Regions from separate parts of the Homo sapiens genome. Here region 1 is linked to region 2. The links come from fine-mapping of genetic effects on plasma protein levels. A gene starts in region 2. The other region holds a variant in brackets. All regions are shown on one strand. Distances are from middle to middle. Region 1 has its middle 46 kb from the start of SLFN11. Region 2 holds the start of CCL16 (C-C motif chemokine ligand 16).

What was found. A credible set is the group of variants that fine-mapping cannot tell apart. PIP is the posterior inclusion probability: the model's chance that the variant is causal. The UK Biobank Pharma Proteomics Project read protein levels with antibody pairs (Olink). The fine-mapping took linkage between variants from a reference panel, not from the people measured, so its PIPs are less certain.
Region 1: its variant is the best candidate, but not a certain one, in a credible set for the plasma level of the CCL16 protein (UK Biobank, PIP 0.80).

What each region holds. Positions count from the first base shown.
Region 1 is chr17:35,321,074-35,333,234 of GRCh38, forward strand. No RefSeq gene overlaps it. Among named protein-coding and RNA genes, the nearest start is that of SLFN11, 46 kb to the right of the region's middle. The variant G/T (reference allele first, on the strand shown) is at 5,349.
Region 2 is chr17:35,973,242-35,984,974 of GRCh38, forward strand. It overlaps CCL16 (C-C motif chemokine ligand 16), which reads right to left and starts at 8,256. Exons shown (of 3, transcript NM_004590.4): 1 at 8,104-8,256; 2 at 4,902-5,022; 3 at 3,258-4,490. The coding sequence starts at 8,179. The coding sequence ends at 4,325. CCL14 (C-C motif chemokine ligand 14) reads right to left here. Exons shown (of 3, transcript NM_032963.4): 2 at 11,097-11,211; 3 at 10,047-10,647. The coding sequence ends at 10,560. It overlaps CCL15-CCL14 (CCL15-CCL14 readthrough (NMD candidate)), which reads right to left. Exons shown (of 7, transcript NR_027922.3): 6 at 11,097-11,211; 7 at 10,415-10,647. RefSeq lists an enhancer at 8,771-9,066 and a silencer at 8,771-9,066.

The sequences.
Region 1 (12,161 bases), 650 kb before region 2:
TTCATGATAAAAACTCTCAACAAATTGGGATAGAAGAAACATACCTAGACATAATAAAGGCTATATGTGACAAACCTACAGTTAATATGATAATATTACATTTCCAGCAGGAGTGTAAAAGTATTTCCTTTTCACCACATGCATGCCAACATCTGTTAATTTTTTATTTTTAATTATGGCCATTCTTGCAGGTGTAAGGTCATCTTGTTGTGGTCTTAATTTGCATTTCCCTGTCCATTAGTGATGTTGAGCATATTTTCATATGTTTGTTGGCCATTCGTATATCCTCTTTTGAGAATTGTCTATTCATATCCTTTGTCCACTTTTTGATGGGATTCTTTGTTTTTTTCTTGCTGATTTGTTTGAGTTCCTTGTAGATTCAGGATATTAGTCTTGTCAGATGCATAGTTTGAAAATATTTTCTCCCACTCTGTGGGTTGTCTGTTTACTCTGCTGATTATTTCTTTTGCTGTGCAGGAGGTTTTAGTTTAATTAGGTCTGATCTATTTATTTTTGTTTTTGTTGCATTTGCTTTTGTGTTCTTGGTTATAAACTCTTTGCCTAAGCCAATGTCCAGAAGTGTTTTTCTGGTGTTATCATCTAGAATTTTAATGGTTTCAGGTCTTAGATTTAAGTCTTTAATTCATTTCCTTTTCCCTAGAGACAATCAAGCTTTCGATGATCATGTGATGAGGTTTCCAGTCAGTTCCAGGTGAAGACACCACTGGCCATCAAGAAGCTACCCTCTCCCCACCAGACAGAGCAGGATGAGAGTTCTATAATCCTCAATAGGTAGGGACGGTGCTCCAAGTCAGCATGAAGCAGTTACAGAAGAAAGACCCTCAGTCCCCCTGCCTCCCATAAAGATTTATGGGGATCACATCTCTCAGAGGGGAAATGCACAGGAGAACTGGGCCTGGAGGCAGAGAACCTAACCCCACCTCTCCACACCCAAGTAGTAAAGGGATCAGAGGCTACTTTCTTTGTAACTCTCCCCATCTTTTCTGCATTGCAGATGAAAAATGAAAGTACCTCTGATTGGCCAAGTCTTCATGTATAACTTTGTAACTTTACTTCAGACTCTGATTGGTCACCTTCCACAACCATTCAGACTGGTTATGGGCCATTATTTCATTTACATAGGGTGTAAAGCAAATAACCAATGGGAAACCTCTTGAGGGTATTTAAACTCCAGAAAATTCTGTAACCCCTGCTCTTGAGCCACTTGCTTCAGCCCACTCCCATTCTGTGGAGTGTAGTTTCATTTAAATAAATCTGTGCTTTTCTTTCATTGCTTTGTGCATTTTGTCCAATTATTTGTTCAAAACACCAAGAACCTGGACACCCTCCACTGGTAACATCATCAGTAATAATTATGATTATTATTTTAAATTGCATGCCACAGAAATAACCAAATTTCCTTGTCAACTGTGTCTTTGACTACGGCTATCCTAAGACTTTTTTCATCCACAAATGTTGTCTTGCTGTGATCCTTCCAAAAAACGTTACTAATAATCAGCTACAGTCCAAGTCTTGTTTCTTTGGAGGAGTTCATTAAAAGGACTCTTGAATGCAGGTTTCTGATAACTTTGCAGATTGTACCATTAGATCAGAGAGAAAACTTTCACTGCACTTATTGAAAGGCTGATATGTTCATAAAGATTGCTAATGCAATATGAAGCAGAGTGAGAGTTGATTGCATTGACAGAACTAATGGAGGACTGAAATAATTTTTATGGCTTTTTTTGTTTGAAATATTGCTGATTCTTTTTGTTTTGTTTTTTGGAGTCTGAAGAATTGTTTTCTTTTGAGCTATTTATAAACTTGAAACATATTTTAAGTGTATTAAGTAAATATACGTTTGTAAACAGAATTTGAGTCATATTTTTCTCTCTGCCTAATTTCTCCAGAATTTGTAAACTATTTGTAAATATTCTTAATTCACAGCAATGTATTTGATTGCATATGGTTCATAACAACATGTTTTTGATGCAGGATATTTTCTTGATGCCTTTGTGGGACTTGTGACTGGAGTGCCTTGTATACTCAGTCCACTGTGCTCAACCCCTTGCAGGAGGAAGCACTCAATTGAACAAGTGCAGGAACCAGCTGGCTGCCTCAGCACTGACAGAAGCAAATTCCATTTGCTTGGACCCACTGCATTCCATCCCTTGTGGAAGAGAGCATGTAAGCAAGTGAGTGCAGGAACTGGCTGGCTGCTTTGGTGCTGGCAGGAGCAAACACCATGAAGGCCCCATGGCAGAGTCCAGGTAGGGGTGCCTGCAACCCCAAGGCCCCAGAGGGAATGTTACAGTGCTCTCTTAGCTCCACCTTTCACAGATAGCACTGTGTTATCAGCTCAGTGGGCCCTTTGACTCATCAATGGGGCTGCTGCCCTCTGCCAGTGAGAGCAAAGGGCCAGTGTGACAGCCCTTTTGGGTACCTGCACTTGGTGGGTCCCCAATTTTTGTCCAGTGCCAAAGAAGAATGAGGTTGGCCAGGCGTGGTGGCTCATGCCTGTAATCCCAGAACTTTGGGAGGGCAAGGTGGGTGGATCACAAGGTGAGGAGTTCAAGAGCAGCCTGGCCAACATGGTGAAACCCCGTCTCTACTAAAAAAAAAAAATACAAAAAATAGCCGGGCATGGTGGCACACACCTGTAATCCCAGCTGCTCAGGAGGCTGAGGCAGAAGAGTTGCTTGAACCCAGGAGGTGGGGGTTGAAGTGAGCCGAGATCGCGCCACTGTACTCCAGCCTGGTGACAGAGCAAGACTCCATCTGAGTAAAAAAAAAAAAGCAAGAATGAGGTCAGGTCACACAGATGAAGGATGGTGAAGGTGGAGTTTACTGAGTGATGAAAGTGGCTCTCAGTAGAGAGAAGAGCTGGCAAGGTGGCAAAGGGATGGGAAGGGCAGGTTTCTCTCTCCTGAAGTCAAGTCACCACTCTGCCTCTCTCCTCCAAAGTCAAGTTGCCTCTCTGTGACATCCAGCCATCATCTATGTAGTCAATTCATCTTTCCCCAATGTCCAGCCACTTCTTCTCCCTCCTGGTTGAGGGAGGGAGGTTGAGGTCTTTATAGGCACAGGATGGGTATGGGCAGGCCATAGGTAGTTTTGGAAAAGGCGACATTCCATTGGTAAAGATATTATTCAGAAAGAACCAATCAGGAGAGAGTAGGCAAACAGGAATAGAAGTTCTCACTTTGGGCAGTGGGTTTAAGGATATTTCTGGCTTGAAGGTGGGATTTCCACTGGGGACCCTCCCCTGTCTGCTTAGAGTTTCTCTGCTTCCAAAGATTGTGTTTCAGAAGAAAAGTCTATATTAGATTAACGTCTGATTCTTGGGCAGCCACGTGGTCACCCATGGTATGGAGCTGCCTATGACACCCCTCCTCAGCATGAAGCAGCCAGAAAGATTGATGACCAGATTCCTCATGTCTGAGGAATTGATAAATAGAAAGTGGGGGCTGAAACTGACCCAATAGTCTCATAGACTGATCTTTTTGATAAACATAGAAATTGACCCTTCTGGTCTTAAAGCTTGAAACTTATATTTGTTTTATCTGCATTCCTTCCTCAGGACAGGACCTTCAGGCCTCTGAAAAAAAAAGGATCAAAGAACTGAAACTCACCAGATCACCTCACCAGATGCTGGACCCCTCATTCACCATGTTTGCTTCCTTGCCTCTCCCTAGTTCTTATTTTCTTACACATTGTTACATTTCTTCCCTGCTATATCAACCCCTAGTTCTAGTCAGTCATGGAGATGGATTTGAGACTGATCTCCCATCCCCTCAGCTACACCACCTGATTAAAGCCTTCTTCCTTGGCAATAATCATTGTCTCAGTCATTGGCTTTCTGTGCAGGGAGCAGCAGGACCTAGACTAAACCCCTGGTGTTTTGGTAACAAAATAAGGCCAGGCACAGAAAGACAAACATCACATGTTCACACTTATTTGTGGGATCTAAATACCAGAACAATTGAACTCATAGAGATAGAGAGTAGAAGGATTATTACCAGAGGCTGGGAAGTGTGGTTGAAGGAGTTGGTGGGCAGTGGGGATGTAGAATGTGTCCAAAAAAAGGAATAGAATGAAGAAGTCCTAGTATTTGATAGCACAACAGGGTGACTATAGTCAATAATCATTTAACTGTACATTTTAAAATAACTTAAAAGGTGTAATTGGGTTGTTTGTAACACAAATGATAAATGCTTGAAGGAATTGCTACTCCATTTTCCATGATGTGATTATTGTGCATTGCATGCCTGTATCAAAATGCCTCATGTACCTCATAAATATATATACCTACTATGTACCCACAAAAATTTTTTAAGAAAATATACCACTGCTTTTCCATTTGTCAAGTGAAAAACTTCTGGGTTATTTCCAGGTTTTGACTATTATGAATAGAGCTATTAAGAATAATAAAATACCATGGCCAGCATACTGAATGGGGAAAAGTTGAAAGCATTCCTCCTGAGAACTGGAACAAGGCAATGATGCCCTTTCACTGTTTTTTTTTTTTGTTTGTTTGTTTGTTTGCAGCTATTGTACAAGGGGTTGATTTCTTGATTTGATTCTCCCCTTGGTCGCTGCTGATGTATAGAAGAGCTATTAATTTGTGTACATTAATGTTGTATCTGAAAACTTTGCTGAATTATCAGTTCTAGGAGCTTTCTGGAGGAGTCTTTAGGGTTTCCCAGGTAAATGATCATATCATCAGCAAACAGGGACATTTGAGTCCCTCTTTATTGATTCGGATGTCCTTTATTTATTTCTCTTGTCTGATTGCTCTGGCTAGGACTTCCAGTACTATGTTGAGGAGTGGTGAGAGTGGGCATCTTTGTTTTGTTTCAGTTCTCAGAGGGAATGCTTTCAACTTTTCCCCACTCGGTATTATGTTGGCTGTGACTTTGTCATAGATGGCTTTTAATATATTGAGGTATATCTCTTATATGCCAATTTTGCTGAGAGTTTTAATAGTAAAGTGATGCTGGATTTTGTCAAATGCTTTTTCTGCATCTATTGAGATGATCACATGGTTTTTGTTTTTAATTTTGTTTATGTGATGTATCACTTTTTTTTTTTTAGACAGAGTTTTGCTCTTGTTGCCCAGGCTGGAGTGCAATGGCCCAATCTTGGCTCACCGCAACCTCTGCCTCCTGGGTTCAAGCGATTCTCCTGCCTCAGCCTCCCGAGTAGCTGGGATTACAGGCATGTACCACCATGCCTGGCTAATTTTGTAATTTTTTTCTAGTAGAGATGAGGTTTCTCCATGTTGGTCAGGCTGGTCTCGAACTCTCAACCTCAGGTGATCCACCCACCTCGGCCTCCCAAAGTGCTGG[G/T]ATTACAGGGGTGAGCCATCGCACCCAGCTGTGTCACATTTATTGACTTGCATATATTAAACCATCCCTGCATCCCTGGTATGAAACCCACTTGGTCATGGTGGATTATCTTTCTGATATGTTCTTGAATTTGGTTAGCTAGAATTTTGTTAAGGATTTTAGCATCTAATGTTCTTTATGGATATTGGTCTGTAGTTTTCTTTTTGATTATGTCCTTTCCTGGTTTTGGTATTAGGGAGATACTAGGTTCATAGAATGACTTAGGAAGGGTTCTCTCTTTCTCTGTCTTGTGGAATAGTGTCAAAAAGATTGTTACCAATTCTTCTTTGAATGTCTGGTAGAATTCTGCTGTGAATCCGTCTGGTCCTGGACCCTTTTTTTTGTTGGTAATTTTTAAATTACCATTTCAATCTTACTGCTTGTTATTGGTCTGTTCAGGACATCTAATTTTTCCTGATTTAAGCTAGGAGGGTTGTGTCTTTCCAGGAATTTATCCATCTCTTCTAGGTTTTCTAGTTTACGCATGCAAAGGTGTTCATAGTAGCCTTGAATGATCTTTCACATTTCTGTGGTGTCAGTTGTAATCTCTTCCGTTTCGTTTCTTACTGAGCTTATTTGGATTTTCTCTCTTCTTGGTTAATCTTGCTAATGGTATATCAATTTTATTTATCTTTTCAAAGAACTAGCTTTTTGTTTTATTTATCTTTTGTATTTTTTTGTTTTAATTTCATTTAGTTCTGCTCTGATCTTGGTTATTTCCTTCCTTTCTTCTGGGTTTGGGTTTGATTTGTTCTTGTTTCTCTTGTTCCTTGAGGTGTGACCTTAGATTGCCTGTGCTCTTTCAGATTTTTTGATGTAGGCATTTAGGACGATGAAATTTCCTCTTAGCATCACCTTTGCTGTGTCTCAGAGGTTTTGATAGGTTGTGTCACTATTGTCATTCAGTTCGAAGACTTTTTAAATTTTCATCTTGATTTCATTTTTGACCCAATGTTCATTCAAGAGCAGGTTATTTAATTTCCATGGTTTTGAAGGTTCCTTTTGAAGTTTATTTCCAGTTTTATTCCACTGTGGCCTGAGAGAGTGCTTGATATAATTTCAATTTTCTTAAATTTATTGAGGCTCATTTTGTGGCTATCATATGGTCTATCTTGGAGAAAGTTCCATGTGCTGTTGAATAGAATGTGTATTCTGCAGTTGTTGCATGGAATGTTCTGTATATATATGTTGAGTCCATTTGTTCCAGGGTGTAGTTTAAATCCATTGTTTCTTTGTTGGCTTTCTGTCTTAATGACCTGTCTAGTGCTGTCAGCGGAGTATTGAAGTTCCTCAGTGTTACTTTGTTGCTGTCTATCTCATTTCTTAGATCTATTAGTAATTGTTTCATAAATTTGGGACCTCCAGTGTTAGGTGAATGTATGTCTAGTATTGTGATAGTTTCCTGTTGGACAAAGCCTTTTATCATTATATAATGTCCCTCTTTGTGCTTTTTTTTATTATTATACTTTAAGTTCTGGGATACAAGTGCAGAATGTGAAGGTTTGTTACATAGGTATACACGTGCCATGGTGGTTTGCTGCACCCATCAACCCATCATCTACACTAGGTATTTCTCCTAATACATCCCTCCCCTAGCTCCCCACCCCCTAACAGGCCCCGTTGTGTGATGTTCCCCTCTCTGTGTCCATGTGTTCTCATTGTTCAACTCCCACTTATGAGTGAGAACATGTAATGTTTGGTTTTCTGTTCCTGTTAGTTTGCTGAGAATGATGGTTTCCAGCTTCATCCATATCCCTGCAAAGGACATGAACTCATCCTTTTTATGGCTGCACAGTATTCCATGGTGTACATGTGCCACATTTTCTTTATCCAGGCTATCATTGATGGCATTTGGGTTGGTTCTAGGTCTTTGCTATTGTGAACAGTGCTGCAATAAACATACGTGTGCATGTGTCTTTATGGTAGAATAATTTATAATGTTTTGGGTATATACCTAGTAATGGGATTGCTGGGTCAAATGGTATTTCTGGTTCTAGATCCTTGAGGAATTGCCACACCGTCTTCCACAATGGTTGAACTAATTTATGCTCCCACCAACGGTGTGAAAGCGTTCCTATTTCTCCACATCCTCTCCAGCATCTGTTGTTTCCTGACTTTTTAATGATCGCCATTCTAACTGGCATGAGGTGGTATCACATTGCGGTTTTGATTTGCATTTCTCTAATGACCCAGTGATGATGACCTTTTTTTCATATGTTTGTCAGCTGCATAAATGTCTTCTTTTGAGGAGTGCCTGTTTACATTCTTTGCCCACTTTTTGATGTGGTCGTTTGTTTTTTTCTTGCAAATTTGTTTAAGTTTTTTGTAGATTCTGGATATTAGCCCTTTGTCAGATGGATAGATTGCAAAAATTTTCTCCCATTCTGTAGGTTGCCTGTTCACTATGATGATAGTTTCTTTTGCTGTGCAGAAGCTCTTTAGTTTAATTAGATCTCATTTGTCAATTTTCGCTTTTGTTGCCATTGCTTTTGGTGATTTAGTCATGAAGTCTTTGCCCATGCCTGTGTCCTGAATGATATTGCCTAGGACTTCTTCCAGGGTTTTTATGGTTTTAGGTATTGGGTTTAAGTCTTTAATCCATCTTGAGTTACTTTTTGTATAAGGTGTAAGGAAGGGGTCCAGTTTCAGTTTTCTGCTTATGGCTAGCCAGTTTTCTCAACACCATTTATTAAAGAGGGAATCCTTTCCCCATTGCTTGTTTTTGTCAGATTTGTCAAAGATCAGATGGTTGTAGATGTGTGACATTATTTCTGAGGCCTCTGTTCTGTTCCATTGGTCTATATATCTGTTTTGGTAGCAGTACCATGCTGTTTTGCTTACTGTAGCAATTGTAGTATAGTTTGAAGTTGGGCAGCTTGATGCCTCCAGTTTTGTTCTTTTTGCTTAAGATTGTCTTGGCTATACGGGCTCTTTTTTGGTTCCATATGAAATTTAAAGTAGTTTTTTCTAATTCTGTGAAGAAAGTCAACAGTAGCTTGATGGGGATAGCATTGAAACTATAAATTACTTTGGGCAGGATGGCCGTTTTCATGATATTGATTCTTCCTATCCATGAGCATGGAATGTTTTTCCATTCATTTGTGTCCTCTCTTATTTCCTTGAGCAGTGGTTTGTAGTTCTCCTTGAAGAGGTCCTTCACATCCCTTGTAAGTTATATCCCTAGGTATTTTATTCTCTTTGTAGCAGTTGTGATTGGAAGTTCACTCATGATTTTGCTCTCTGTTTGCCTGTTGTCAGTGTGTAGAAATGCTTGTGATTTCTGCATATTGATTTTGTGTCCTGAGACTTTGCTGAATTTGCTTTTCAGCTTAGGGATATTTTGGGCTGAGACAATGGGTTTTTTGAAATATACAATTATGTCATCTGCAAACAGAAACAGTTTGACTCCCTCTCTTCCTATTTGAATACGCTTTATTTCTTTTGCATGATTGCCCTGGCCGGAACTTCCAACACTATGTTGAATAGGGGTGGTGAGAGAGCATCCTTGTCTTGTGCTGGTTTTCAAAGGGAATGCTTCCAGCTTTTGCCCATTCAGTATGACATTGGCTGTGGGTTTGTCATAAATAACTCTTATTATTTTGAGATATGTTCCATCAATACCTAGTTTATTGAGAGTTTTTAGCATGAAGGGGTGTTGGGTTTTAACGAAGGCTTTTTCTGCATCTCTTGAGATAATCATGTGGTTTTTGTCATTGATTCTGTTTATGTGATGGATTACGATTATTGATTTGTGTATGTTGAACCAGCCTTGCATCCCAGGTATAAAGCTGACTTGATCGTGGTGGTTAAGCTTTTTGATGTGCTGCTGGATTTGGTTTGCCAGTATCTTATTGAGGATTTTAGCCTCAATGTTCATCAGGGATATTGGCCTGACATTTTCTTTTTTTGTTGTGTCTCTGCCGGGTTTTGGTATCAGGATGATGCTGGCCTCATAAAATGAGTTAAGGAGGATTCCTTCTTTCTGTTTTGTTTGTAATAGTTTCAGAAGTAATGGCACCAGCTCCTCTTTGTACCTCTGGTGGAATTCGGCTGTAAATCCGTCTGGTCCTGGGCTTTTTTTTTTTTATTGGTAGACTATTAATTACTGCCTCAATTTCAGTACTTGTTATTGGTCTATTCAGGGATTTGACTTCTTCTTGGTTTAATCTTGGGAGGGTGTATGTGTCCAGGAATTTATCCATTTCTTCTAGATTTTTGAGTTTATTTGCATAGAGGTGTTTATAGTATTCTCAGATGGTAATTTGTATTTCTGTGGGATCAGTGGTGATATCCCCTTTATCATTTTTTATTGTGTTTTGATTCTTCTCTCTTTTCTTCTTTATTAGTCTGGCTAGCCATCTATCTATTTTGTTAATTTTTTCAAAAAACCAGCACCTGGAATAATTGACTTTTTGAAGGGTTTTTTTATGTCTCTATCTCCCTCAGTTTTACTCTGCTCTTAGTTATTTCTTGTCTTCTGCTAGCTTTTGAATTTGTTTGCTCTCACTTCTCTAAATTTCTACTCTGATCTTAGTTCTTTTAATTGTGATGTTAGGGTGTCTATTTCATATCTTTCCCGCTTCCTCCTGTGAGCATTTAGTGCTATAAATTTCCCTCTAAACACTGTTTTAGCTGTGTCCCAGAGATTCTGGTACATTGTGTCTTTGTTCTCATTGGTTTCAAAGGACTTCTTGATCTCTGCCTTAATTTTGTTATTTACCCAGTAGTCATTCAGGAGCAGGTTGTTCACTGTCCTTGTAGTTATGCGGTTTTGAATGAGTTTCTTAATCCTGAGTTCTAGTTTGATTGCACTGTGTTGTGAGAGACTAATTGTTATGATTTTCATTCTTTTGCATTTGCTGAGGAGTGTTTTACTTCCAAATATGTGGTCAGTTTTGGAATAAGTGTGATGTGGTGTTGAGAAGAATGTATATTCTGCTGGTTTGGGGTGGAGATTTCTGTAGATGTCTATTAGGTTCTCTTGGTTCAGAGGTGAGTTCAAGTCCTGAATATTCTCGTAATTTTCTGTCTCATTGATCTGTCTAACAGTGACAGTGGGGTGTTAAAGTTTCCCACTATTATTCTGTGGGAGTCTAAGTTTCTTTGTAGGTTTCTAAGAACTTGCTTTATGAATCTGGGTGCTCCTGTATTGGGTGCATATATATTTAGGAGAGTTAGCTCTTCTTGTTGCATTGATCCCTTTACCATTATGTAATGCCCCTCTTTGTCCTTTTTGATTTTTGTTGGTTTAAAGTCTGTTTTATCAGAGACTAGGATTGCAACCCCTGCTCTTTTTTTTTTTTTTTTTTTGCTTTCCATTTTCTTGGTAAATATTCCTCCATCCCTTTATTTTGAACCTATGTGTGTCTTTGCACGAGAGATGGGTCTCTTGAATATAGCACACCAATGGGTCTTGACTCTATCCAATTTGCCAGCCTGTGTCTTTTAATTGGGGTATTTAGCCCATATACATTTAAGGTTAATATTGTTAGCTGTGAATTTGATCCTGTCATTATGATGCTAGCTGGTTATTTTGCCCATTAGTTGATGCAGTTTCTTCAGAGTGTCGATGGACTTTATAATTTGATATGTTTTTGCAGTAACTGGTACTGGTTGTTCCTTTCCATATTTAGTGCTTCCTTCAGGAGCTCTTGTAAGGCAGGCCTGGTGGTGATAAAATCTCTCAGCATTTGCTTGTCTGTAAAGGATTTTATTTCTCCTTTGCTTATGAAACTTAGTTTGGCTGAATATGAAATTCTGGGTTGAAAATTCTTTGCTTTAAGAATGTTGAATATTGGCGCCCACTCTCTTCTGACTTGTAGGATTTCTGCAGAGAGATTCACTGTTAGTCTGATGGGCTTCCCTTTGTGGGTAACCCGACCTTTCTCTCTGGCTGCCCTTAACATTTTTTTCTTCATTTCCACCTTGGGGGATCTGATAATTATGTGTCTTAGGGTTGCTCTTCTCAAGGAGCATCTTTGTGGTGTACTATTTCCTGAATTTGAATGTTGGCCTGTCTTGTTAGGTTGGGGAAGTCCTCCTGGATAATAACCTGAAGTGTGTTTTCCAACTTGGTTCCATTCTCCCTGTCAGTTTCAGGTACACCAATCAAATGTAGGTTTGGCCTTTTCACATCGTCCCATATTTCTTGGAGGCTTTGTTCATTCCTTTTTATTCTTTTTTCTCTAATCTTGTCTTCATGCTTTATTTCATTAAGTTGATCTTCAATCTCTCGTATCCTTTCTTCTGCTTGATCAGTTTGGCTATCAATATTTGTGTATGTTTCACAAAGTTCTCATGCTGTGTTTTTCAGCTACATCAGGTCATTTATGTTCTTCTCTACACTGGTTATTCTAGTTAGCAATTCCTCTAGCATTTTTTTCAAGGTTCTTAGCTTCCTTGAATTGGGTTGGAACATGCTCCTTTAGCTCGGAGGAGTTTGTTATTACCCACCTTCTGAAGCCTGCTTGTGTCTATTTGTCAAACTCATTCTCCGTTCAGTTTTGTTTCCTTGCTGGCGAGTACTTGTGATCCTTTGAAGGAGAAGAGGAATTCCGGTTTTGGGAATTTTCAGCCTTTTTGCGCTGATTTTTCCTCATCTTTGTGGATATATCTAGCTTTGGCCTTCCAGTGGGGTTTCTGTGTGGACGTCCTTTTTGTTGATGTTGATGCTTTTCCTTTCTGTTTGTTAGTTTTCCTTCTAACAGTCAGGCCCCTCTGCTGCAGGTCTGCTGGAGTTTGCTGGAGGTCCACTCTAGACCCTGTTTCCCTGGG
Region 2 (11,733 bases):
TTCTTGAAAAGCAACTGAATGCACGTGAGAAAAGCTCTTCCAGTTCTGAACCATCAGAAGTTTCTGGCAGGCTTTTTATTATGTGCTAGGGTGGGGATTTGACTTTGTGTATATAGACTCTCGATTACTCAGGTTTTCAGACTGACACCTCAGTGCTCCTGAATTTAAAAACAAAACAAAACAAAACACAAGACAACGACATTCTGTTCCAGCTTGCCAGAACCCCGGCCCTGAGCTTCCTGTTTTTAGCCTTGTCCTGTTTTTTAGGCCTTTGAACTCTGACTCCCTGGCTTTGACCCTGGTGCTGGCTAAGGACTTTGAAACTTCTTGCCGCATCTGATGTTGTCCTGACTTTTCTGTCAACCTAGGCCCTGCCGGCCTCACTCCCACCCCCATGTTTGCTTTGGCCTCTGCAAGCAAAGGTCTGGGCCTGACTACATTGTATGTTATTGATTCTGTCATCCCCAGGCTGGGAGCTCCTGGAGGAAGGAGTTTGATCATATTTAGCTGTAACCCCTGATAGCAAGGAGGGTGGAGAGAAATTCCTGGATCAAGGAGCAGGGACTCACAGTCCAGGGAGGGACCAAAGCAGGTAGCACTGCCTCTGTGGAGGAGCAAGAGCAGCAAGCACATGGGGCTCCTCTGAGTCAATGCCCGGGTGATTGATGGGTTGTTGCCCAAGTTCAGGTGCTTTTGGTGCAAGTGACAGAAACCAAGATCTGCAAACTCTGGCTAGCAAGAAAAGAGAGATACCCACACGTCCATCAGCAGATTAGCTGGATAAACGAAATGTGGCAGATACATACAATGGAATGTTAGCCTAATGACTAACAGGAATAACGTTCTGAAGCATGCTACAACTTGGATGAACCTTGACGACACTATGCTGGTGAAATAAGCTAGTCACAAAAGGACAAATGCTATGTGATTCCCCTTACATGAAATACCTAGAGCTGTCAAATTCATAGTGACAGAAAGAAGAATAGTGGTTACCAGAGGCTGGGGGAGGAGAGAATGGTGAGTTAGCATTTAATGGGTACAGAGTCTCAGGTTGGGACAATGAGAAAAGTCTGGAGATGGATAGTGGTGATGTTTGCCTAACAAAGTGAATGTAGGATTGTACACATAAAAATGTTTAGAATGGTAAATTTTGTCTATATATATATATATATATATACACACACACATACACACATACACACACACACACACACCTATATATATATATGTATTTTTAGGCAGAGTCTTGCTCTGTCATCCAGCCTGGAGTGCAGTGGTGATATTATGGCTCACTGCAGTGCAGTCTCAACCTCCTGGGCTCAAGCAATCCTCCTACCTCAGCCTTCTGAGTACCTGTGACCACAGGCACACACCACCGTGCCCAGTTAATTGTTTTTTTTTTGTAGAGATTAAAAAATATGTAAGATCTCACCATACCGCCCAGGCTGATCTCAAATTCCTGGACTCAAATGATCCTCCTGCTTCAGCCTCCCAAAGTGCTGGGTTTATAGGCATAAGCCACTGTGCATGGCCTTGTTATGTGTGTACACACACACACACACACACACACACACACACACACATGTTTTTTGAGACAGGGTCTCATTCTGTCACCCAGGCTGGAGTGCAGTGGCACGATTTCAGCTGACTCCCCAGCTCAAGGGATCCTCCTGCCTCAGCCTCCTGAGCAGCTGGGACCATAGGCCCAGGCCACCATGCTCGGCTAATTTTTTTTTTTTTTTTGTATTTTTGGTAGAAGTGGGGTTTCGCCATGCTGCCCAGGCTGGTCTCGAACTCCTGGCCTCAAGTGATCCGCCCACCTCAGACTCTGGAAGTGCTGGGATTACAGGCGTTAGCCACCTTGCCCAGCCCCTGTTATGTCTATTTTAACACACATACATCCATCATCCCCCGCCAAGAACTGACCTAAACCAATAAGTTATTCCTGAGGTGCTAAATTGCCACCATGGCCCTTTAGGAATTTTTTTTTTAAATTGAGATGGAGTCTCGCTCTGTTGCCCAGGCTGGAGTGTAGTGGCATGATCTCAGCTCACTGCAACCTCTGCCTCCTGGGTTCAAGCGATTCTCATGCCTCAGCCATCTGAGTGGTTGGGATTACAGGCGACCACCACCATGCTCAGCTAATTTTTGTATTTTTAGTAGAGATGGGCCATGTTGTCCAGGCTGGTCTCAAGACTCCTGGCCTCAAGTGATCTGCCCGCCTTGGCCTCCCAAAGAACTGGGATTACAAGTGTGAGCCATCGCGCCTGGCCTAGAAATTTTTTTAAAGGAAAGATGCTGGGACATCTCATGGAACTGAAAGACCAGCTGAAGCTCCCAGCCTGGAGCTGGGGCAGGAAGTGAGGCAGTTCCAGGGACCTCAGGACAGAAGTTCATAGACCTCTTTCCTTGGGACACTGCCAGAAACTCACTTCTGCTCTAGCAGCAACCAGACTGAGTTTCTCAGGTCCAAATTTCAAATCTCTCTGAGAGTCTGATTGGCCAGCTAGATGAGATGGCCATCCTGGGAAGATGAGCTTGGGCTGGGGAGGCAGCTCGTTTTTTTTTTTTTTTTTTTTTTGAGACAAGAGTCTCTCTCTGTCGCCCAGGCTGGAGTGCAGTGGCACGAACTCGGCTCACTGCAAGCTCCGCCTCCTGGGTTCATGCCATTCTCCTGCCTCAGCCTCCCGAGTAGCTGGGACTACAGGCGCCCGCCACCACGCCCGGCTAATTTTTTTGTATTTTTAGTAGAGACAGGGTTTCACCGTGTTAGCCAGGATGGGCTCGATCTCCTGAGCTCGTGATCTGCCCCCCTCGGCCTCCCAAAGTGCTGGGATTACAGGCGTGAGCCACCGCGCCGGCCAAGGGAGGAGGCTCGGGTTTTAACAACATGGCCACTGGGGGGCAGTTATGAGTCAGTTTACCAGAATCCAATTCATTGGCCCGTTTTCAGCTTGACACTTCACTGCATTTATTTGTTTCTCTTAACCATCCGGTCTTAATTACCTGTCTTAACCATCCGGTCTTAATTACCTGGCTTTTGTTTTGTCTTCACAACAGCGTTTTGGGAGAATGTTGAATCCAAGCGAGCTGAGTCAGCTGTCTGCTGTTAAGCTGGAGACAGAGGGGAAGATTGAATATAAATGGCCCCCAACCTTGACAAAAGTCTCAAGAAATGTGGAGAAGCCCCTGAAAAAAACTGAGATTAAGCTTCTTTCACCCTAGCAGAAAAAAAAGCAGGAGGTTAGGAATCAAGCTGTCAAATAAGGGAGTTTTATTTATTGCATGTTTGGGTTTTGGACTAAGAGTTTACCCCTAGCCGTGTCTCATACCCTTTCTTTCCCTGTCCTGCAAAGCTTAACATGGGAGGTAGAGATTTGTGTCTCTTCTTCTTCTTCTTCTCTCTCTCTCTCTTTTTTTTTTTTTTCCAATCAGGCACTCTCTGTACCCCTGCCACCCTGAGGAAGACAAAATATGAGAGGATCTAGCAAAGTCTCTGCAAAAATGATTAATGTGAATATTCCCATCCGGACTTCCTATGAAAAAGTTGCATTATAAAATGAAAGAATAATTGAAGAAAATATAGATCCAGAAAAATCCATAAAGATGGACAGGAAAAATCAAGAGTTCTATGGGGCTCTTAATGGGTCAAGACCCAGAGGGCAAAGATCATCTGGAAGGCTGGAAACTGGCTAAGTATTTAGAATGGCTTGTGTACTGGTGTGAAGTGAGGAATTGAAAGAGAGCAGGAGAAGGATGTGAAATATATTTTTCTGTGTATTAAGAGTGCACTGGCCGGATGTGGTGGCTCACGCCTGTAATCCCAGCACTTTTGGAAGGCTGAGGCAGGTGGATTGCTTGGGCACACGAGTTTGAGACCAGCCTGGGCAACATGGTAGAATCCCGTCTCTACCAAAAATACAAAAATTAGCCAGGTGTGGTGGCGCAAGCCTGTAGTCCCAGCTACTCGGGAGGCTGGGGTGGGAGGATCACTTGAGCCTGGGAGGTGGAGGTTACAGTGAGCCAAGATCAAGTGAGCCAAGATCACACCACTGCACTCCAGCCTGGGTGACAGAGTAAGACCCTATCTCAAAAAAATAAAAATATAAATATAAAAATAAAAGAGCGTACCTCTGCCCACGTCCCTTAACTTTGGTATTTCCTCCTAAGATTGAGAAAATATTCGAAATACTTCTCCTTTATTTTGATCATTGTTCTGCTTCTCTCAATGTGACTGGCTAGTTTCAGCCTAATAAGGCTTCCCCTGTTTTCATAGGTTTACCCCTCTCTTCTGTAAACAAGGGCTTCCACTAAAGCCTGGTCATCACTGGGAGTTGAGGAGCTGGGGTTGACCATTCTTTGCTGTAATAATTTTAACCGTGGACAAGTTCCTGGTAGGCAGCAAAGGTAGGTTGGGATCCTTGATGTACTCTTGGACCCAGTCGTCATTGGGGTTGGTGCAGACTTCTCGGTTCCTCTTGGTGACGAAGCTGCAGAGGCAGAATTAGACCGTCATGGGCTGCAGACTCGGGCAGGAGTCCGGTGCCCACCCCCACCTCTGGTTCACATGGAGCTCACCTTATGTTCTTTAAAGCTTCCCTGGGCCTGTCCTGGCTGGGTTCCCTCAGACAGCCTCTCTCTCTGGCCTCAGAACCTTACCATCCCTTCTCTCAGTCCCTTCTCCACTCAGCCTAGACCCTCAAGCTTGGGTTTCATAATGAACCACATAGCTAAAAGTGGCAAAATTAGGAATTAATCCCAGGCCCCTGAGAGCCAAAGGCCAAACCCTTAGCCACTGCTCCACTGCTTCTAGCATGGAGACCTCTTGATCCCATGTATCTCATTCCTGCCCCTGGGCTCCCTGTCCCTCTCCACAGAAATATCTAAAAGGACGTGCTTACATGATTGCTGGCAGGTGACAGTTGAGGGCCTTTCTGTATCCCACCACTAGTCTCCTTGGCAACACTTTCTCATAATACTTCAGGCAGCAGGTGGATGGGGTGTTCACCCACTCAGGAACTTCTGAAGGAATCACATTGCAAGCTGAGCCAGGGAAGCAGAGGGGAGACCACAGCTGCCCACCTCTGTCTCCCACCATTTGTGTTTCACTCCTCTGATAGCAAAGCCGTCTGTTAGAGGAGACCAATGATAGCTTGACTGGTAATGAAGTGCATAAGATGAATCCCTTTGGGGGACATACATTTAGAACCCTCAGCCTCTGAGCTGAGTGTCAACTACAAATGACTTAGTTATTCACACTTGCCAAGGAACCGGGAGGAAGCTGGCTCATTCTTTTGTTTATTGGTGACTTGATCGGGCAAACATGTGTTGAGCTAGTATTATATGCTGGGCTCTATGGGGGTAAAAACATGAGGAAGATACAGTCACTACCCTTAAGTAACTTACAGACTAGTCAGGGTTGAAAGAGAAATTGAAAAGTTAAACAAACACTACCACAGAATGTGGTCCAGGATAGAACAGACTTTGGCATAAGGTGCTATGGGAACAGAATGAAGGGCCCCTAACCCATCCTTGGTGGTTGAGGAAGAAGTCTCAAAGCAAGTGAGGCCTGCATTGATTCGTAAAGGATGAGTAGGATTTAGACACACGGCTGGGTGTGGTGGCTCATGCCTGTAATCCCAGCACTTTGGGAGGCCGAGGCGGGCGGATCACCTGAGGTCAGAAGTTTGAGACCAGCCTGGCCAACATGGTGAAACCCCGTCTCTACTAACAAAAATTAGCCAGGCATGGTGGCACATGCCTGTAATCCCAGCTATTCGGGAGGCTGAGGCAGGAGAATCACTTAAACCCGGGAGTCAGAGGTTGCAATGAGCCAAGATTGCGCCACTGCACCCCAGCCTGGGCGAAAGAGTGACTCCATCTCAAAAGAAAAAAAAAAAAGGATTTAGACACACAAAGGACTTGTAGAATCTGGAAGAAAGAAATGCAGGAAAGCCTGAAGGTAGGGGAAGCTCAGTGTGTCTTGGGAGTGCTGGGCAGTTTGGGTGGCTGGCATGCAAGGTAGGAAGAAATGAATGGGCAGAGATGAAACTGGAGAGAGGAGGAGGGTCTGGTCACATACCTGCTGAGCTACTGAGGAATTTGGACTCTATCTTAGAGGTATTGGAGAGGCGGAGGTTAGGGGGAAGGGTGAGAGAGTAGAGCCTTTAGAGACAGAAGTTAGAGCAGGAGGAAAAAGTATATGATTTAGGCTTTGGGGTCAGACAGCTTGGGTTGGAATTTTGACTTGATTTGAATTTTGACTTGAATCATGGGCAAATTTCTTAATCTCCCTAGGTTTCAGTTTCCTCATCTATTAAGTGGGGGTAAATGATACTTACTTGTATCCTAGGATCATGGTTAGAATTCGGTGAGAAAATGATTGGAAAGCCCTTAACTCAGAGCCTGGCACACAGAAAGGCTCAATCAGTGCTTATTATAATTAAGAGCCAATGGTAGTAATGACTGCTCTTCTTGCCTTGGAAATGGCGCTTCCCCCCATCTCTTTGATGTATGCAGGATACTGGACTTGATTGGTTATTGTCACTGTGTTTCCTTTGAGCTGTCCTGACTACCCATCAATTGGGGATACTACACAAGAGGTCAGTCCAGAGATCTCTCCCAGCCCCCAAACCTTCAGAGTGCAAATCTTTTTGTAGCTTGACCCCTTTGCCTCCAGTGAGTGGCAAAGCTTGGGACATCTTGAGAGCACCATCTTGCTGATCCATGCTTTGGGTGGGCCATTTTCTCTTTCTTGAAGCCTGAACCCACTGCACTGGCCTGATTGACTCTCCCAAAGAGCACTGTTCCCCCCTCCCACACAGTCCCTCTGTAAGTGATGCTCATATCACTGGTTCTCAAAGCAAAGTTTACAAAGACCAGGGTCATCCTGAGAGTATGTGGGCAGATTACATGGTGCACTTGACCCTTGCTCCTTTGTGTTTACACAGGCAGAGTCAGGCCAGACTACATGCCAGGGTGACCTTAAGAGAGAAAAGAGGCCAGGCATGGTGGCTCATACCTGTAATCCTAGCACTTTGGGAGGCCGAGGTGGGCAGATCACGAGGTCAGGAGTTTGAGACCAGCCTGACCAACATGGTGAAACCCCGTCTCTACTAAAAATACAAAAATTAGCTGGGCGTGGTGGTGTGTGCCTGTGATCCCAGCTACTCAGGAGGCTGAGGCAGGAGAATCACTTGAACTCGGGAGGCGGAGGTTGTGGTGAGCCGAGATCGCGACACTGCGCTCCAACCTGGGCAACAAGAGCGAAACTCCATCACAAACAAAACAAAACAAAACAAAACACAACAAGCAAACAAACAAAAAAACAAAAGCGAAAAGAATGGCTGGGGCAGCCTAGGGCAGGTACACGTCTTTGTCCTCCCCACCCCCGTCACCAGGTCCTCGTAAACAATGATAGAGGGAGGAGATACGGAGGGGCAAAACAAACCCCCTCCTCCATAGGCCCCAATTCTCCCTTTCCCCACAGCTCCAAAACCTTTCAACCCCTTTCCTCTTTTCTGCAGATTTTATTTAGTCATAGGCTGGGGGATGGAGAAGGGGACCATAGATTCCCAAGCAGCCATTCCACTGGGACTCATTTTGGTTGTCTGATAGTCCCAGCAACCTGTGCCAGCCATGTTGAGGAAGGGCTCTCTCGGTTCAGACTCCCAATTCCTGGACTTAGACCCACATGATTGTTTGAACCTTCCTTCCTCTCGCCACTCATTCTTCCAGGGCACCTGCCACTTTTCTTTCTCATCCGCGTGCCTCCCCCTCCCTTTCATTGCATGCACTTCTTGTTGCATTTTCTGCTGCTTTCTTGGCCTCTCCTCCTGAATGATCATTCCTGCTCACCACGCTTGGGACTCCTGAGGAAATGGTGACCCAGTTTCCTGGAACTACTTACCCCAGAAAGATCCGGACCAACCCCAGCTCTACTTACAAAGGGGAGAATTGGAGGTCAGAAGCTATGCATGAAGGTGGGGAGAGCCCACAGGGTCTTATGAGGCCAGAGACCCGACAGCGCCCTTGGCACTACCTCCCTGCCAGCTGCTCCATCCCCCTTTCTCGTTCCTGCCCTACAGAGACAAGTGGACTCACTTGGCTGGCTGCGAGAAGCCGAAGTAATGATAAGGATGAGGACAAGGAGAGACAGGGCAGCCTCGGAGACCTTCATCCTCTCAGCGAGGCAGTACAGCTTCAGGGAGAGCCGAATGAAGATGTTGTCTGTTGCTGGTGGTCCGCTTGCCAACTACTCAGCTCTCTGGACCTTGACCGCATCAGAGCCGGTAGAGGAGGAGAAACAACAGGCCTCAGTGTTTGCTGAAACAGAGGGCAGCAGAGGATGGGACTTGGTGCAGAGCTGAATTCAGTAGAATCTGAATTCACGTGAAGAAATGGGCGAATGTGTGTCAGCTACCTTACATGCCCTATCTTATATAATCCTTAAAATAGTGAATAGCGATTATTACTTCCCTGGGACTACTGAGGCCTAGAGGCTAAATAAATTGTCCAAGGTCACCTGGGTGGATAGGCGGATGAAAAACCAGATCTGTTTGATTTCACCATGTTACCTGCCACCATCTGTATGTTGGGGAAGGGCAGGCAGGGTTGAACCACCCCAGCTTCCCCCAGGTGATCAGTCTTGGGGAGATGAGCACAAAGCAGGATTACAGAGCCCAGACTGAGGCAAAGGTAGGGCTTAGTTGCCTCTGAGAAGGAAATGCCCTCTCCCAGTCCAAGGCCACATGATTGAGCTCACACTCTTTCCTGTCACAGTGTATGCTAATACTCCAAAAAAAAAAAAAAACAATGTGCCTGATCCTTGGGTCCCCATTTGTTGCTGGACCGTTTGACTTATTTGTCAATGTTTTTATTTATCTCTTTGGACCTCGGACTTTGGACTGATTTTTAGGTGTAGCCAGCTCGCTGATCCCTCCTGGGTGCCCCCATGGCCAACCATGACCAGCAGGGGACCCTCCAACTCTGTGCACCTGACAACCTGCGTCTGTGCTCCAGGACTCCAGCTTCTGCCCCTCTGGCCTGGGCTCTGGCTGGACCTGTCCCACAGCTTCCTCTCTCTTCAGGTGCCTCAGGACCCTTTTCCATGTTGAAAGCTGCATTTAGAGAAGAGATCAAAGATATAAGGGATTTTGCTGTTGATGGACAGCAAGCTTTAGAGGCATAGGTGATGTGTTTCAGGTGTTGAGGGCAGTGGGAGGCAGGGGCAGAAACAGGGACTGTGCAGATCCTTATGGGGCTTTCTGCTTGGCATGACTGCTCATAGATAGGTAAACCGTATAATGCAGTTACTCCTGGTGGGTTCAAGGCTTCACCTGGTGGTGAAGCTGTGGCTTTTTGTGAGGGCAGGGAGGGTACGTATGTGGGGCATCCTCTTGACCTCTGTTTATGGAGGTGACAAGGCCTGAGAAGCCTGGTTGTGACTTTGGCATGCAGGCCCCCATATGGCCCTTAATGTGGCCCACAAGCCCTTCCTTATCTGTGGAAGGCTGGAGGCCAGGAAAGGGTGGTCATAATCCCTACTCTGGGCAAGCTCTTATTCCAAGTACACAGAGCTCCTCCTTGGGCCCTGAAGATAGGTTTGAGAGCTTATTCTTGGAGCATAGTCCTCCTCTTGATTTCTGTCTTATTCCATCTGTCCCTCTATCCCTCCCTCCCTCTTTCTCTCCATCCATCCATCCATCCCTCCCTCCCTTCCTCCCTCCCTTCCTCCCTTCCTCCCTCCCTTCATCCCTCCCTGCTTCCCTCCCTCCATCCATTCCTCCTTCCCTTCATCCTTCCATCCACACATTCTTCCCTTCCTTCATCCATCCATCCATCCATCCATTTCCTGAACACCTGGTATGGGCTAGGCTTTCTGCTAAGCCTTCTAGGGGATAAAAAAGTTAGTAAAACAATATAGTATAATCTGATGTGTGTAAGCGAAGGGGAGGGGTTGGATAAAATGTCTTCATGCATCATTCCTATTCCAGACAGCAGTGAAGAAAGGCCTTGAAAACAGCACAGAAAAAAGGACTATGGAGTTTGACTGCTATAGAGAGCCCTTTATGAAGTGTTACCTAAAAAATCAAATGATGATTTGTAGCTTTTACACTTGTCATGAAGCTTAAATAAGATAATGCATACAGACTGCCTAGCAGAGTGCTTGGAGTATAGAAAGCATTAAGAAAACGGGGTCTGCTACTGTTGTTGCTGAGGAGGAGACGGTCTTTACACTGCTTTTCTTTCTCACTTTCTGCTTCTCACTACCTGCATTGCAGGCCTGACCTATTTTTTGTACCAGGCTCCAGCAAAACTTCTGCAGAGCGAGGCTTGATGCCGAGGGTGCCACACCCTGGTGTCCTCAGTGCATGGCCAATGAGTAAATCCCGTAGAAAGGAATGAGGCCAGGGAAGAGCATGAGTGGTCTTTAATTCAAAGCAGGGAAGCTCCAAGAGGGTGACTGGGGCTGAGAGTTAGCGGTGGGTGGAGGAGGGGGCCTTGGCATCTTCTCTTTATGTCTCTGAGCTGTGCCTTCGCCACCCCTTCTGGGTCACTCAGTTCTCCTTCATGTCCTTGATATAGTCCTGGACCCACTTGTCACTGGGGTTGGTACAGACGGAATGGCCCCTTTTGGTGATGAAGCTGTGGAGCAAGAGGGAGAAGGATCACAAACCGAGGGGCCCAGTGGCCGGAAGAGACAGCCCATCTTCCCTCCCTCCTAAATTCCCCACCTGACCTATACTGCTTTTCCTTTCTTCCACAGAGGCAGCTTAGAGCCAGTCTCCTCTCTGAGACATACTCTTCGGTTCCTAGGACCCCTAGACCCATCTAGTCTCTGTGTCCCCCTGAGGAAGTGCCCTCTTGCCTTCTTCTCCCTTCTCTGTCATCTCCCCATCCATGGGGTCAGTTTCCCCATGGCTCCTGCAGGCTCCAGCCAGAAAGCGCTCAGATTGCCCCTCAGCTGCCTCTCCCCATGTAGTCACACCTGGGAGGTACGCTGGGGGTCCCCATTCCACCACCACTCCCTGCTTCCCTCCAGGAGGCCCTGCTGGCTCCCTCTCCCCCCAGTGTGATGTGTGTGTACCACCTACACAATTCCGGGCTTGGAGCACTGGCTGTTGGTCTCATAGTAATCCATAATCCGCTGACGCGGGATCTTGTAGGTAGTGTAGGTGAAGCAGCACTCTGAGGGGTGGTAAGGTCCCCCTGAGGAGAGAGCATCAGATGCTGAGGAGGGGCCCCTTGTTAAAGGCCATACCATTGGCTGCTCCTGCAAGCTGAGGGCATGGAGGAGGGAAGGAAGGAGGAGACAGCCCCTCAGAACTTGGAGGGGAGAGTAGGCTTTCCTCATCTTCTCTTCTCCTTCTCCATGGTACTCCTGGGCTCTTCTTTTTCTCCTCCCTCATCATCAATCACCCTTCCTCCTTTTCTTCAACCCCTCTTGGAAAGACTGGTGGATGACTTTCAACTCCAGGATTGAAGAGCAGCACACTCAGATCTTCTTACACCATCTCTGGGGGCCGACTGGCAGAGAAGGCTAGGGACTTGGCCAATATCATGCAGCCTTCATGCCTTATTCGGGAAAGGTGCTCCAAATAGGAGGAATATTTGGAAGAAATCCCAATAGGGATTTGGAGACATGCCATTTGGGAATGCAAACCCAGCCCCTCCTAGTGCTCCACCCTGCCCATGTCCCCATTGAACCGACAACCTGCAGAGAGAGCAGGA